3 linked regions of the Homo sapiens genome follow. The protein of the gene in region 3 interacts with the protein of the main gene of each other region in a biochemical or structural test. Each region holds a gene or a part of one and is shown on either strand. Other genes may lie near its edges.

Evidence for each region.
Region 1: the proteins of G3BP2 (region 3) and SLC38A8 interact in a surface display test, tested with the Homo sapiens proteins (one large-scale study listed by IntAct).
Region 2: the proteins of G3BP2 (region 3) and SCN9A interact in a surface display test, tested with the Homo sapiens proteins (one large-scale study listed by IntAct).

Annotation. Positions count from the first base shown.
Region 1 is NC_000016.10:84,010,710-84,015,295, reverse strand, and holds part of SLC38A8 (solute carrier family 38 member 8), read left to right. Parts: intron 1-2,243; coding exon 2,244-2,295; intron 2,296-4,586. UniProt on the Homo sapiens protein: Electrogenic sodium-dependent amino acid transporter with a preference for L-glutamine, L-alanine, L-histidine, L-aspartate and L-arginine. May facilitate glutamine uptake in both excitatory and inhibitory neurons.
Region 2 is NC_000002.12:166,368,359-166,372,944, reverse strand, and holds part of SCN9A (sodium channel protein type 9 subunit alpha), read left to right. Parts: intron 1-4,586. UniProt on the Homo sapiens protein: Pore-forming subunit of Nav1.7, a voltage-gated sodium (Nav) channel that directly mediates the depolarizing phase of action potentials in excitable membranes.
Region 3 is NC_000004.12:75,648,164-75,653,835, reverse strand, and holds part of G3BP2 (ras GTPase-activating protein-binding protein 2), read left to right. Parts: intron 1-5,094; coding exon 5,095-5,197; intron 5,198-5,672.

The sequences.
Region 1 (4,586 bases), on a different chromosome or scaffold from region 3:
GGGATGCTTCTTCCAGTGGAAAAGGGTACACTGTAGTGGCCCACTGGAGCCCAGAACAGAGACTCCAGATCCGCAGTGGGGGGTGTGTTCCAGGGCCCCACACACAGCAAGTGTTGAGTACACAGTCGAGACTCCCTCAGTGCGTGTTCCGTGAGTGGACCCTGTGATTCAGCCGCGACTGGAACCATGCCAAACAGACATCGAGCTTGGGGACCCTTAGCCAGGTATCCCCAACACCCTGATGCAGCCGTTATGTCAAACAGACAAGAAGTAGATGCCCATTGGTGAAACTTAACAGAAAGCACAGGTAGAGGCTCTTACAGGTCTTCCAAAACTCGAATGGGGGCATGAAACGAAACATTGTTCAGGGTCCCAGGTAAGTGGGTGGTGACAACTTTGTCAATACCCCGGAGGTGGGGGGGCGATGGAAGAATTGAGGGCCACAGAGAAATGTTGGTTATCAAAGAGGCCAACTGATGTGTGGAATATGAAAAGTGGGTTCTTAGCAGGTGAATTAAGATTCAGGGGTTGTCTTTGATGTAGTCCCTTGAGAATCTAACCGTACCTGCCCCAGCTCCCGTAAATTGGGGTCTACTGGGATTAAGAGATAAAGACTGGGGAAGTGAAGTGAAGGGAGGGGAGGAGAACAGCCACCCACTCTGCTCCTGGCTCTGCCCAGAGCTCTCAGAGGTGAGGGGAGTGGCCATGTGGCTCCTCCCTCAGGTTCTGGGTGGAACTTTTAGAGAGGAGAGGGGTGTGGCCATGTGGCTTCTCCCTTGGGCTTAGGGTGGCGCTTTCACAGGTGAGGGTGTGGCTATACAGCTCCTCCCTCGACTCTGGGCAGGGCTTTCAGAGGTGAGGGGTGTGGCCACACAGCTGCTCCTGCATGCTCTGAGCGGAGCTTTCATTGATGGGGATGTGGCCACACGACTCCTCCCTCAGTTCTGGGCCGGGCTTTCAGAGGTGAGGGTGTGGCCACGCAGCTCCTTATTCAGGCTGTGGGCGAGGCTTTCAGAGGTGAGGGGTGTGGCCTTGTGGCTTCTCCCTCGGGCTTAGGGTGGAGCTTTCAGAGGTGAGGGTGTGGCTACACAGCTCCTCCCTTGGCTCTGGGCGGGGCTTTCAGAGGTGAGGGGTGTGGCCACATAGCTCCTCCCTCAGGCTCTGAGAGGAGGTTTTAGAGGTGAGGGGTGTGGCCATGCATCTCCTCCCTCAGCTCTGGGCGGGCCTTTCAGAGATGAGAGTGTGGTCACACAGCCCTTCCCTCAGGCTCTGGGCGGGGCTTTCAGGGCTGAGGGTGTGGCCACACGGCTCCTCACTCAGGCTCTGGGTGGAGCTTCTCAGAGGTGAGGCTGTGGCCACGTGGCTCCTCCCTCACACTCCCTGGTCTGGGCTGTTAGATTAAATTCTGATGCTGTGACCAGGTGGCCAGTTGTAGCGCTGGCTATTTCCTGTGGTGGGAAGGACTGCCCAGGACAGGTTTGAGTTGAGAGAGGATCCTTTGGGAGCTTTAGGCCAAGCTACATGGCCCTGAATCCTAGCAGAACTATTTAAAAAAAAAAAAAAAAAGGGCTGGGTGCAGTGGCTCATGCCTGTAATCCCAGCACTTTGGGAGGCCAAGGCGGGCGGATCACGAGGTCAAGAGGTCCAGACCATCCTGACCAACATGGTGAAATCCCGTCTCTACTAAAAATACAAAAATGAGCGGGGTGTGGTGGCACGCACCTGTAGTCCCAGCTACTCGGGAGGCTGAGGCACGAGAATGACTTGAACCCGGGAGGTGGAGGTTGCAGTGAGCCGAGATGGTGCCACTGCACTCCAGCCTGGCAGCAGAGTGAGACTCCGTCTCAAAAAAAAAAAAAAAAAAAAAAAAACACACACACAACAAAAGAAAGTAATGGTAGCTGCCAGTTGCCGAGCACTTCCCGGGTGTCAGGCATGGACTCTCACCATCTCCTCATAGACTCTGCTGTGGGGGGGCATGTTGTCAAGGTTGCCTGAAAGATGGGGCTCTGGGAAGTCGGTTGCTGCCAGACCTCTGCCTAAGTCATTAGGGCATGTTGAGCTGGGACTCCAGCCCCGTCCTTCCAGCTCCACTGTGTTGCCTCTCCAGGGGGCCTGAGCCAGGGGCACCCATGGGCGGAGGCCTTGCTGGCCTCCTGGGTCCCTGAGGACCTCTCCCGGGACCTTTTTGTTGCTTTGGGTTTGATAACGAAGAACTGTGGGTGACCCTGTCTTTTTTGCAGGTTTGTGCCTCATCTGTGCAATGGGTGTCGAGCCTATAGGACCAAGAGTCAAGTAAGTGTCCCTAAGATGAGGTGGCACCCTGGGTGTGCCCCGGATCAGAGTAAGAATGTTTCAGGGGACCCTGCAGATCCTATTTCTCATCCTCTGCATCCTGCAGGTGAGAAACCTGCGAGCCACAGGAAGAGAGTCTCTGTCTACCCAGTATGAGGGCATCTGAGCCAGGATAGGAGCCCGGGCCAGTAACACCGGGTCCTCCAAGGGCCTTCCCTTCCACTCTGAGGGTCTGTGGTTGGGATTTCATGTAGATTCCAGCCTCTGGAAGCACCCAGTGGTGCATCTGTACCCTCCTTTGTTACCTGGCTCGGACCCAGGGCAGGATCAGGGTGCAGGCTGGGTTAGAAAGGCCCCATGGCCGGCCAGACACCATCATCACAGCAGTGGGTCGCTGTTCCCAGGCTCCTCTGCTAGGCACTGAGCTAGGTCCTTTTACATGTTCACCTCCCCACCATACCCACATGTCTTCATCCTACAGCTGAGGAGGCGGGCCCGGATGCTAGTGAGGACAGAGCTAGGATGCAACCCAGGCCCCTGGCTCCCAGGCCCCATGCTAACCCACCTGCCTGGCATACAATGCTGTTGAGACCAGATAATTTGGATCTTTCCTTCATTTGACAAATATTTATCCCCGAGCGGACCTGTGGATCAGACACGACTGAGCCTCTGTACTTTGCCACTGAGCAGCTGAGTCTGACCCACGGAAGAGGACGATGTACACGTGAATGATGTGCGCTTCCTCAGCCGCCCCTGGGTAGTCTGGGGTTCTGGGTGACTCCCTCCCATCCCATAGATGGGGAAACTGAGGCTGAGGCAGGTAAAGAGATGATGTATTAGTTTTATGGGGTTATTGTAACAAATTACCATAAATTGGGGCATGGTGGGGAGGCTTAAAGCAACAGAAATGAATTTTTTCCCCAGTTCTGGAGCCAGGAGTGTGAAATCAAGGTGTTGGCAGGGCTGGACTCTCTGAAGGCGCCTCAGCTTCTGGTGGCCCCAGGTGCTCCTTGGCCTGTGGCTACATCACTCCAGTCTCTGCCTTTATCATTATTTAGCTTTCTCCCTGTGTCTCTGCGTCTCAGAAATCCCTCTGCTTTTATTTATTTTAGTTTTTGAGACAGAGTCTTGCTCTGTTGCTCCGGCTGGAGTGCAGTGGCGTAATTGTGGCTCACTACAGCCTCAACCCCCTGGGCTCAAGCAATCCTCCTGCCTCAGCCTCCTGAGTAGCTGGGACCACAGACGCCCACCATCACACCTGGCTGCCTTTCTTTTATAAGGATACCTACCATCAGATTAGGGTCCACCCTAAATCTAGGTTGTATCTTCTCTCAAGATCTTTTCCTTAATTACATCTGCAAAACCCAGTTTCCAGATAAGCTGGCAAGCACAGGTTCCAGGTAGACATGAATTTTGGGGGCCACCCTTCACCCCATCCCAGATAATGTTAAATGGCAGCAATCGTGAATTTGGGTGCCAGCTGTAGGTCTGTTCCCCTATACCCCCGGCCCTCTAGCCCCATTGAGCCCAAGCTTGGTTTTTGCAAAGGAGCAGGCCTGGCCCGGTTTCTTCTGGATTTGAGAGCAGTGTTTCTGGATGTTTCTAAACCTGCCTTGGGTATTGAACCAGCCTCCCAATGTCTGGTAACCCCCTAAGCCGCTCATTCCCTGGGATGCTTTTCGGAGTCTTCATGCTTTTTGTTTTGTTCCTTGATCTGAGCTCACAACAGTTTTTACTGATGAGCTTTCAAGATATTTTTATCGTTAAAACTGCTTTGGGTCCTTCTAATACATCAGCGCTGCTCCAGGAGTGCCACAGCCCACAGGCACATTAGCCTCACAGTCCCCGCACAGATGAATGGATGTTTATGGCGCTGAACAGCCGTGCTGAGATGCTGCTCGGTTAGAAATGTTCCTTCCATGACAACCCGGCCTTCTGGTCTTTGTTAATGGGGCCACAAATATCTCTGGTGGCCCTGCCATTTTGTGGGAATCTTGTTATCGCTCTGACCTCCTTGTCTACCCCATCTCTGGTTACATGACGAAGCTCACAAATGTGGCCTCGGTGGCTGCCAGTCCCAGCCACCTCTGCCTCCTGCGTCCTCGTCCCCTACCCCTCTGAGATCGTGTGTGACTTAGAGCTTGCGTCTTCTCCTTCATTTTCATGGGATTTCATCAGAGGCTGAGGAACAGAAAGGGAGGGTGGGGGGACTTTTCAAAGTAGTGTCTCCCTTCTCTCCATGTCTTTTTCTCTTTTTGAGATGGAGTCTTGCTCTGTCCTCCAGGCTGGAG
Region 2 (4,586 bases), on a different chromosome or scaffold from region 3:
CATACTGCTTGTTACAGCATGCAGGTATTTTGTGAATTTGCATACCAAATACTCCAAGGGAACCCAGACTATGTCTTCATTGTTGACTTAGCTTCCAGAATAGTGCCTGGCATCAAGTAGTAGGGGGTTCGTAGATATTTATATAAATAATAAAATACAAAAATATGGATTCTTCCAGAATAAAGCATATTAACCCTGGAAACATGAATTTTGTGATTCTATTTTTTATTTGTCAAGCATTTAGTATTTTTACAATATCATGGTATGATATTGAGGAGGTAAAATTAAAATATCCTGAGATGTATTCTCTCTTTTATCAGTGTAGGTGATAATGTACTTAAAGGTAAGTAATTTGTAATGCATTCTTAGAAAGGCAGTGACCACAAATGTATTAAAATATATTTTAAGAAAAAATTGGATTGCATAAACTAATATGGTTATAAGTGACTCCAAATCTAAAATGATAACCTTGTTAGGTTTAAATCTGTATCATCTAACAGAAATTTGAGGGCCAGTCAATAGTCACTGACTATGAATTTAAAATATTCTTTTAAAATAAACATAGATGCTTATGTGAGCTCAGTTGATAGAAATGTAGTCAGATGAGGCGGAGGCCATAAGTTAGGTTTCCACACGGTCTAAATTGATGTTTGCCCCAGGTACAAAGGGCACATTATCCAAATATTTGAAGCATTCTCTAAGGAAGGTTCAGAGAGGCAATGTGGGCTTATCCATGAAGACCCATCACTGTTATTAGAGTGGAAGTAAGGACTGCAAACTTCATGCTCATAAATGATTGTGTCATTTTCATACTAGAATTTTACCACACACACACTCACACTCACACACACACACACACACACTTTGTATGGTGATTTGCCTCCCCCCTTTATTTTTGCAGACTATGCTTAAAGATATTAAACAAACAACTAGTTTTGCTATTAACATTTGGTTGAAAATTTAGCTTTCAATTAGGTGACAAACTGATTAATGATTTTTTTATGTAGCAAATGGCCAGCCACAGATTTTTGGTAAATAATTTGGTTACCACATTACATCTTGAAGGACTAAATTATTTCACTAATTGTGAGCAGGGATTTTTAAAAATTTGCTCTGAAGAGGACATATTGTGGATGTTGTATTGGAGGGCATCTGTGTACTAATTGAAGATGGTCCTTCATATTACACATCACAAATTAGCTAATTTATTCTTTACAGAAGTATTATGACATCTTCCTTTAGAACTGTGTAGAGTTAGATTACCACTTGAGAGGCAAGGTCATATTAAAATAGATATTATAAAATTGTATAAAAATATTTTATATGAGGATTTATGAGAGCATCCAGAGAATGTGGGTAGAATACTTTTGTGGAATATGAGATAACAATTTTGGTGTCCTGCCATTCTAAAAAATGAAATTTCTTCATTGAAGGTATCACTTACCCTTTCCTCTGCCTTGCTGGAAGGAAATGGCTTTAGGCAAAAGAAAAAGCCATCAGCTCTTGGCAGCTAAAGGTGGAATGAAGTTTGGAGGAATGAAACCCTTCTGGGTGGTGAGGAAAAATGCCAGGCCATGATAAAGTGGGGAAGGAAGAGGGGAATGCCTTGAACAGTGCCAGTAAGCATAATCTGCCACAGACAAGTTTGAATTGACATATGTAGAACTGAATTATTCTATATCTTTTTAGTTCTATAGAGAAAACCGTTCTTTCCACGTCTCTTTTTAAAATAACAACTTACTGTAAGCAAAAAATATGTTGTTGTTGTTTCTTTAACACAGGAGATGAACTATCTTTAGATTTTTTAAAGTGATATAACATGGAGCCAAAAATGCCATATATTACTGTTGAAACCTAACGTTACTTTAACTGTAATTTCCTTGCTATTCATTTTATGATTTCCTCTTGTTATGTCAAGTGTTAGAGAGACTGCTATTACTGATCATAAATTTCTTTAAAATGTCTCCTTGGATTTTTTACAAAGCTTTCTGAATCATTTATCAAAATACAATAAAGCTCTAATTGCACCTAGGATTGTTCACTTGGAAATTTAGAAAGAGTGTGTACATTTACAATTAAGTTAGCATCCTGCCCTGCAATGAATGCCCTTTTTCTTTTTTTTTTTCCTTCTTCTCTCCTACATCTCATCTTCCAAATGTTTGATATGTACGCCAGTAAGGCAAATTTTACTCCACTTTTAGGTCAAACTATTAGTACAAATAATTGGAAAATTGAGCCTCTAAAGAAAGATAAATAAGATTAGAAGCATGCATTAAAATATAAGTATTAAAAACATTCCCATAAGATTTTTAATAAAAATTTTATGTGCTATATGCACACCTAGACTCCCTGTATTATCTGATTTTTAAAGATTCTTTTTTTTTTTTATTTTTTATTTTTTTGAGACGGAGTCTCGCTCTGTCGCCCAGGCTGGAGTGCAGTGGCGCGATCTTGGCTCACTGCAAGCTCCGCGTCCTGGGTTCACACCATTCTCCTGCCTCAGCCTCCGAGTAGCTGGGACTACAGGCGCCTACCACCGTGCCCGGCTAATGTTTTTGTATTTTTAGTAGAGACGGAGTTTCACCATGTTAGCCAGGATGGTCTCAATCTCCTGACCTAGTGATCCGCCCGCCTCGACCTCCCAAAGTGCTGGGATTACAAGCATGAGCCACCGCGCTCAGCCCATTATCTAATGATGATGATGATGATTATTATTATTATTATTATTATTATTATTATTATTATTATTATTTTAACTGGGGGTAATTTCACTGGATGTGGTATCTGTCAACTTTTACTAGTTGCTCCTACACTATATGTTTTTAAATCCAATGTAATTATTTTAAAAATATGTCATCTTCTTGAGAGTCTATACTTTAGAATTTGAAAAAAGAAGTAAATGTAGATATTCAAATCCATGCAGATGAGTAAAACAGGGAAAAATGAGAAAAATGTTTCATGATAATAAAATATTATGTCAGGCACAGCTGGTCACCCCTGCAATCCCATCACTTTGGGAGGCCGAGGCTGGAGGATTGCTTGATCCAGGAGTTCTAGATCAGCCTGGGCAATAAAAGGAAAATCTGTTTCTACAAAAAAATTAAAATTTATATTTCATATATTGATTTAAGCTCTACTAAATGACTATTCTTTCAAGTCTAATAGACAGTGTATCTTTTAGGGCTCAGAGTAAAGATAATTTATTGAGGACATTTTGAATAGGATGAATTAAATGCTTTATTGGTAAGTGATGCCTTTATCTGAGTGATTCCTTCTAGGTAAATATTATGGGACCAATCTTTGTAAATGATCTTTGCATGGAACAAAATATTATAAAGTTGAAGTGATGAATTTGTTTCCCTCTTAACAAAATATGTATTCTTGTTACCCCATTTACAAACTTGGCTCATGGTAATTCAGGTAGGAAAAAGGGAAGTGGCCTACTCAGGGATCAACTGGGAATAAGGTTCTTATAATCCCATGAGATCAGCTGACAGACTTTTAGGAATGAACACTTGTAGAACAGCTAGGCAGAGAAGTGCCTTTCAAAATTTATATTACATCTCTACTATATTTCAGACTGTAAAATATTTTTATAAAGTGTTAAAAGCACAGATAAATAAATTTGAGTTCAAATTAGTATAGTGAAAGGAAGTTTATTTTTCCCAAATATTTCCTTTACTCAGTATGTGGTCTTAGTCAAATATTAATTTCTTAAATATTGCTTTCCTGTAAATTAGTAGTATTTACTTCTAAGGACTATATTATATGTTATATATAGAGTATATTATATATTAGGAGATATATATGTATATACATCGTAATTTGTTTTTTCCAAAACAGCCACTTTAGTGTCTTACACATGATAAGTAGATATGAGTAGATGTTCAATAATGGTATCTAGGCATTTAATAACTTAGAATATTATAATCAAAATGCATTCTTTTTTTTTTTTTTGAGACCGAGTTTCACTCTTGTTGCCCAGGCTGGAGTGCAATGGTACGATCTTGGCTCACTGCAACTTCCGCCTCCCAGGTTCAAGCAATTCTCCTGCCTCAGCCTCCCGAGTAGCCGGGATTACAGGCATGAGCCACCTCGCCTGGCTAATTTTGTATTTTTAGTAGAGATAGGATTTCACCAGGTTGGGCAGGCTGGTCTTGAACTCCTGAGTTCAGGTGATCTGCCCGCCTAGGCCCCCCAAAGTGCTGGGATTATAGGCGTGAGCCACCATGCCCAGCCTCTTTTTTTTTTTTTTTTTAATTAAGTTTCAAGGTACATTTGCAGGATGTGCAGGTTTTTTACATAGGTAAAGGTGTGCCGGTTTCACTCTGTTGCCCAGGCTGGAGTGCAGTGGTACGATGTTGGCTCGCTGCAACCTCTGCCTCCCAGATTCAAGTGATTCTCCTGCCTCAGCCTCCCAAGTAGCTGGGATTACAGGCATGTACCACCATGCCCGGCTAATTTTGCAGTTTTAGTAGAGATGGGGTTTCACCATGTTGGCCAGACTAGTCTCGAATTCCTGACCTCAGGTGATCTGCCCACCTCGGCCTTCTAAAGTGTTGGGATTACAGGTGTAAGCCACTGTG
Region 3 (5,672 bases):
GTCAAATCTCCATTCATCATCTACATAGGTGGTATTTGGGGTTTGGGTGTGTGAAATACAGATTAAGTTGGTTTTTACCAGTATATAATATTGTCATTTAAAAGGCTTCTTAAAATAACAAAAAGAATGTTCCTTTTTCAAAAGCTTCAAATTCTATTTAGCAAAAATATTTTAGGTAAGAAATTCGGAGAGGCACAAAGTAGTGTGGCGTAATAAAGAATCGTTTTTGTTTTTTTTTTTTTTTTTAAAGCAAAAAAAAAAAAAACCAGGAAACTTTTTAACATACGCTGCCTAAGCTCTCAGTGTGTAAGTGGTTCACACCACTTAATTGAAGCCTGTACCAACTTATGACTGTAGTGTTCACCTTAACTGATCATTCTAGTATTCTGCTTTTTGTCTGTTTGTCATCTTACCCATTTCAGAGCTTTCAAAAATGTGAAAATAAGACACTGCCTACCTAAGAAGTTTGTTAGATTTAGTTTAGAATGAACTAAATTCTAATTAAGTTTATCAGCATATAAAGGGTGTCCAATTTTTTCCCTACATTTTGCATTAAACTTCATTCCACTAGAAAATTTATGTTTGAAATGTTAGTATATAAATGTATCTTTTATATGTTCTAAGCAGTGAAATTTTGAGGTTTTAAAAGTAGTAATTTTTAGTTTTTTGGTGTTGGGACACATAATCAGCTACATAAAAGTAGAATACGCCCGTGATACTTTTTTTTTTTTTTCATTTGGGTATTCAGGCAATGCGTGGTTACCCTTATGTAAGATGGTCACCCAGAGTTCCATCTTAACAAAGGAAATTAGTTTGTGCAGTATTGTTTTGTGCTTTTCTACCCATATGAAGACCCAATAAATAACTTTTGGCCCTTCTTTTGGAATCTTCATTTCCTATCAGATTTGGATTTGGAACCTTTGGATTATTTCATTTCAGAGAGTTTAAACAGTTAAAAGTTAAAATAGCTAGTGCTTATGCCTTTGATATGCGCCAAGCATTGTGTGAAGCACTTTTTGTTCATTTTCAGTGAATCCTCACAACCACCCTGTCAGGGTGGGTACTATTGTTTCTGTTTTAGAGATCAAAAAATTGAGGTCTAGAGTAACTCACAGACATTTATGTACATAGTAGGGTTGGGCTTTGAAGTCATGCAGTGGGACATGAGTCCATATGTGGCTCATGTAAACGTTTATTTTTTTGAGACAGAGTCTCGCTCTGTCGCCCAGGCTGGAGTGCAGTGGTAGTGGCAGTGGCGTTATCTTAGCTCACTGCAACCTCCACCTCCCCAGCTCAAGTGATTCTCCTGCCTCAGCCTCCCGAATAGCTGGGATTGTAGGTGCCCGCCACCACGCCTGGCTAATTTTTGTATATTTAGTAGAGACGGGGTTTCACCATGTAGACCAGGCTGGTCTCAAACTCCTGACCCAAGTGATCCACCCGCATTGGCCTCCCAAACGGTGGGGATTACAGGCATGAGCCACTGCGCCCAGCCTCATGTAAACCTTATGCAATTCTCCAGCACCTTGCTGCAGAGTCATGTATCTTATCTGTATTTGCATCAAAGAGGACTCTTAAGACATGCCTGATTAAATCCTAGTCTCTTGCCCAGAAAAATACCTTCATATTTATCTCAAGTAGTTTGCCTTAAATATATTTTCAAAGTTAGTTGTAGGAAATGAAGTTGTATTTCCTATGCCACCCCTTTAATAAAACAAAAATTTTAAATGTTTAGAATTTAAACTTTAAAAGAACGTTCTAATGTCTTTAGGCTATACTTAAAATGGATTCATGATATTTCTACTTGATTTAATAATCCTTCAATTTTAGTTTGTTACTTTTGTGTAGTATTCATTTCCTTGTACTTTGAACATAGATTATTGATAAAAGGAAGTTAATTCCAGGGTATTGGTAGGCATTAACTTAGAAGTAGGTAAGTTAATTTCTTGAATAAAATATTTTGTCTGGAAATTGACTAGTTCACCTACAAAGCTTATGTTTAATTGAAGGGCTTATTATTTGTGGTTATACCTGCTTTTATTGACTTGATTTGATGGTTCTGTACTTACTTCATATTCTGTTTGACCTTCATTTGTGGGTTTGTCATTTGATCATACTTTCTGGTTGCATGGAATTAATTTTAAGGCCCTCTACTGTGTGGCATATTGGCCATGTTATCTGTTCAGAAAAACTAGTTTTAATCATGAAACTGGAGACCTGAAGAATTATAAGTATGCAGCTGACTTAGTTAACATATGTCAATCAGTTACTGAAAGGGACAGTGTTAGCTTTTTGTTCTTGTATTTTTCTTAAACTGGCATCATCAGATATCTACTTAAAGTCAGATTCCTAAATCAATGGCATGAATTATTTGTAAGATGTTGGAAATTATTAATATTTAACTTTATCTGTTTTTAATTTTCATCCTTAAAGAATAAGGAAGAACTTTATTTTGCTACTTGTAGTTACTCGTGTTTTGATAATCTGTTTTGAAAAGAATTTAAATCAGTCAAGACCAGGGCCTCAAGTTCTTTGATAACATTTGGATTGAATGAGTCTAAGGTTTTTCTTAAATTTTGTAATAAAGGTGCATTTAGTGTTTTTATTAATTGCCAGTAATACACTCACTTTATTAAACTTTGACAGAGTACGTTTATTCTCTAATTCTGTTTATATTCATACTGAAGTATGCCTTTAGACCCCCTTAGTTGAAGTTTCTAAATAACTGCCTTTTTCAGCATCACATTTTGCATCAAATTATTATATAGAATTAAACCCCAAATACAGATAGCGGTGGTCTCAGGGCTGTCACTTACGTATCTTTGTCAGACATAGAACATTATCCTGCATGTTTTGGGTCAGAGAACTAAAAATGTAATTTAATTTAAATGAACAAATAGTTACTGAACATCTGTGTCTAATAGCACTGTGCTTGGTTCTTTGGGTGATGTAAAAGTAAGTTAAGATATGGGCCTTGGGCACTGGCGTGCCTGTAGTCTCAGCTGCTTGGGAGGCTGAGGCAGGAGGATCACTTGAGCCTAGGAATTTGAGGTTACAGTGAGCTATGATTGTGCCACTGCACTCCAGCCTGGGCAATAGAGTAAGACTGTGTCTCTCTAAAAAAATAAAAGATACAGACTTTATAGGAGTAAATACATATAAATAACAACAAAACCTGGAGAGAGTTAAAAATATTCATTTTATAACTAGTAGAATTCTAGAATATGGTAAGCAACTTCATCTTGAGGGAAATAGGACATTGACATAGAGGAAAACAGAATTTAGGAAGAGGCAGGCAAACTTGGTTAAACTGTTAGCATAGGAGTTAATATTCCTTTTGGTTACAGTGGCTGAAATCATTTACATTAAATTGTCATTTTTGAAAGAAGCTTTTTTTTTTTTTTTTTTTGAGATGGAGTTTCTCTCTTGTTGCCCAGGCTGGAGTACAATGATCTGCTCACGCAACCTCCGCCTCCCAGGTTCAAGTGATTCTCCTGCCTCAGCCTCCCTAGTAGCTGGGATTACAGGCATGTGCCACCACACCCGGCTGATTTTGTATTTTTAGTAGAGACAGGGTTTCTCCATGTTAGTCAGGCTGGTCTCGAACTCCCGACCTCAGGTGATCTGCCCGCCTCGGCCTCCCAAAGTGCTGGGGTGATAGGCATGAGCTACTGTGCCTGGCTGAAGGAAGCATTTTTGTGTCAGAATTTGTCCTTGTAAATTACAATATCTGTTATATAAATGATTAAAGAGTTTGAGCCGCTGCATGGACTGAGGTCCTCAGAGATGACCACTTTTTTATTTATTTACTTATTTATTTCTGTGAGAAGGAGTTTCACTCTTGTTGCCCAGGCTGGAGTGCAGTGGCGTGATCTTGGCTCACTGCAACCTCCGTCTTCCGGGTTCAAGCGATTCTCCTGCCTCAGCCTCCCAAGTAGCTGGGGTTACAGGTGCCTGCCACCACACCCAGCTAATTTTTTGTATTTTTAGTAGAGACTGGGTTTCGCCATATTGGGCAGGCTGGTCTCAAACTCCTGACCTCAGGTGATCCGCGCAGCTTGGCCTCCCAAAGTGCTGGGATTACATGGAGATGACCATCTTTAAAGATGGGACTGAAATTACTAGCTTTCTGAGTTGAGGACATGTTCTCCATATCCTGTTGGGTGTTTTCAGCATCCTTTGTAGGCTCATATATTTGTCTCTCCTTGGACCATAAATATTTGGGTAGTAGAAGGTCTGAAGAGGTTGGGAATACTGAAAATGCTGTTGTCTTGAGGAAAAGGTAATAGCAGACGCCGATGTAATTTTGTTTTAAAAATAATTATATGTTTAATTCAGCAGTTGGCAGAAACTTTTGGGAGGCATCTTAAACTGTCCTATTACTCCCAGACCCCTAGTTAAGGAAAATCGTTGGGACCAATACTTCAAATGCATATTTTTCTCATAAGGAAGAACAGTAGGGAGCTAAAGGACTTTAACTATTTGAGATGCTACATACAAGTTCCTATAAGTTTCTGTCATTTTTTTAACATGCATTTTAACCTTACAGGTAGCAATTTCAGGTGTTAGAGCAAGCTAATTTTTATACTTTGAACTATAAAAATACTGATTTTAAGGTTATGGGCAGAGATTTAGGCAATACTACTGAGCACTGTTACATTTGAAGGATAGCAAATTAGATTTTCAGAAATTATGTGTTATGTATTCTTGTCTAAGATGAAGATGGCTTTTAATTTTGTTTATGTATTTACATGGAGTGGTTCATCTTGCATTTTTGTGATTTTTTTTTTTGGTAGCAATACCTTTTATGCTATTTCAGTGTTGATATAACTTTAATGAAAAAATGTGACTGTAAAAAGCAACTTATTGTGAGTTACACAGCATTAAGTGGGAAAACAAAAGCTACCTACAGTCCTAGATTGGTACAGAATATCTTGATAAAAATTTATTTTTCTCATACATAGGACACTATGTTAAAAACATTCTAAACTTAAAACTACTGTTATGTCTGCTAGTGACTTGTCGTTAGGTGCTTTGGTTGGTTTTTCTCCAGTGGAGTGTTTTTTATAATGTTTTTTTTTCTTTATATTTTAGCCAAGAGTCGAAGCTAAACCAGAAGTTCAATCTCAGCCACCTCGTGTGCGTGAACAACGACCTAGAGAACGACCTGGTTTTCCTCCTAGAGGACCAAGACCAGGTGAGTCAGCTCCTTTATAGCCTTTAGCATTTAACATTTGTAAGGCTGTAAAAGACTGAACTTAAACAAAAAACTATGATGCGTTCTATACACAGACCCATATAGTCTCAAATTGCTTAAAGATGTGATGTGAGCAACCTGCTAAATAGTGTCTGGGGCCAAATAACCAATTTTTAGGGAGGATTGGTTGACATGCCATGGTGACATATTTTGAAGGTGTAAAAGACTTAAGTCTTATTTGGTTATTGTCACGGTTTTTTGTTTTTTTTTTTTGTTTGTTTGTTTTTTTTTTGAGACGGAGTCTTGCTCTGTCGCCAGGCTGGAGTACAATGGCGTGATCTCAGCTCACTGCAACCTCTGTCTCCCGGGTTCAAATGATTCCCTTGCCTCAGCCTCCCAAGTAGCTGGGATTACAGGCACACGCCACCAGGCCCAGCTAATTTTCTGTATTTTAGTAGAGACAGGGTTTCACCAT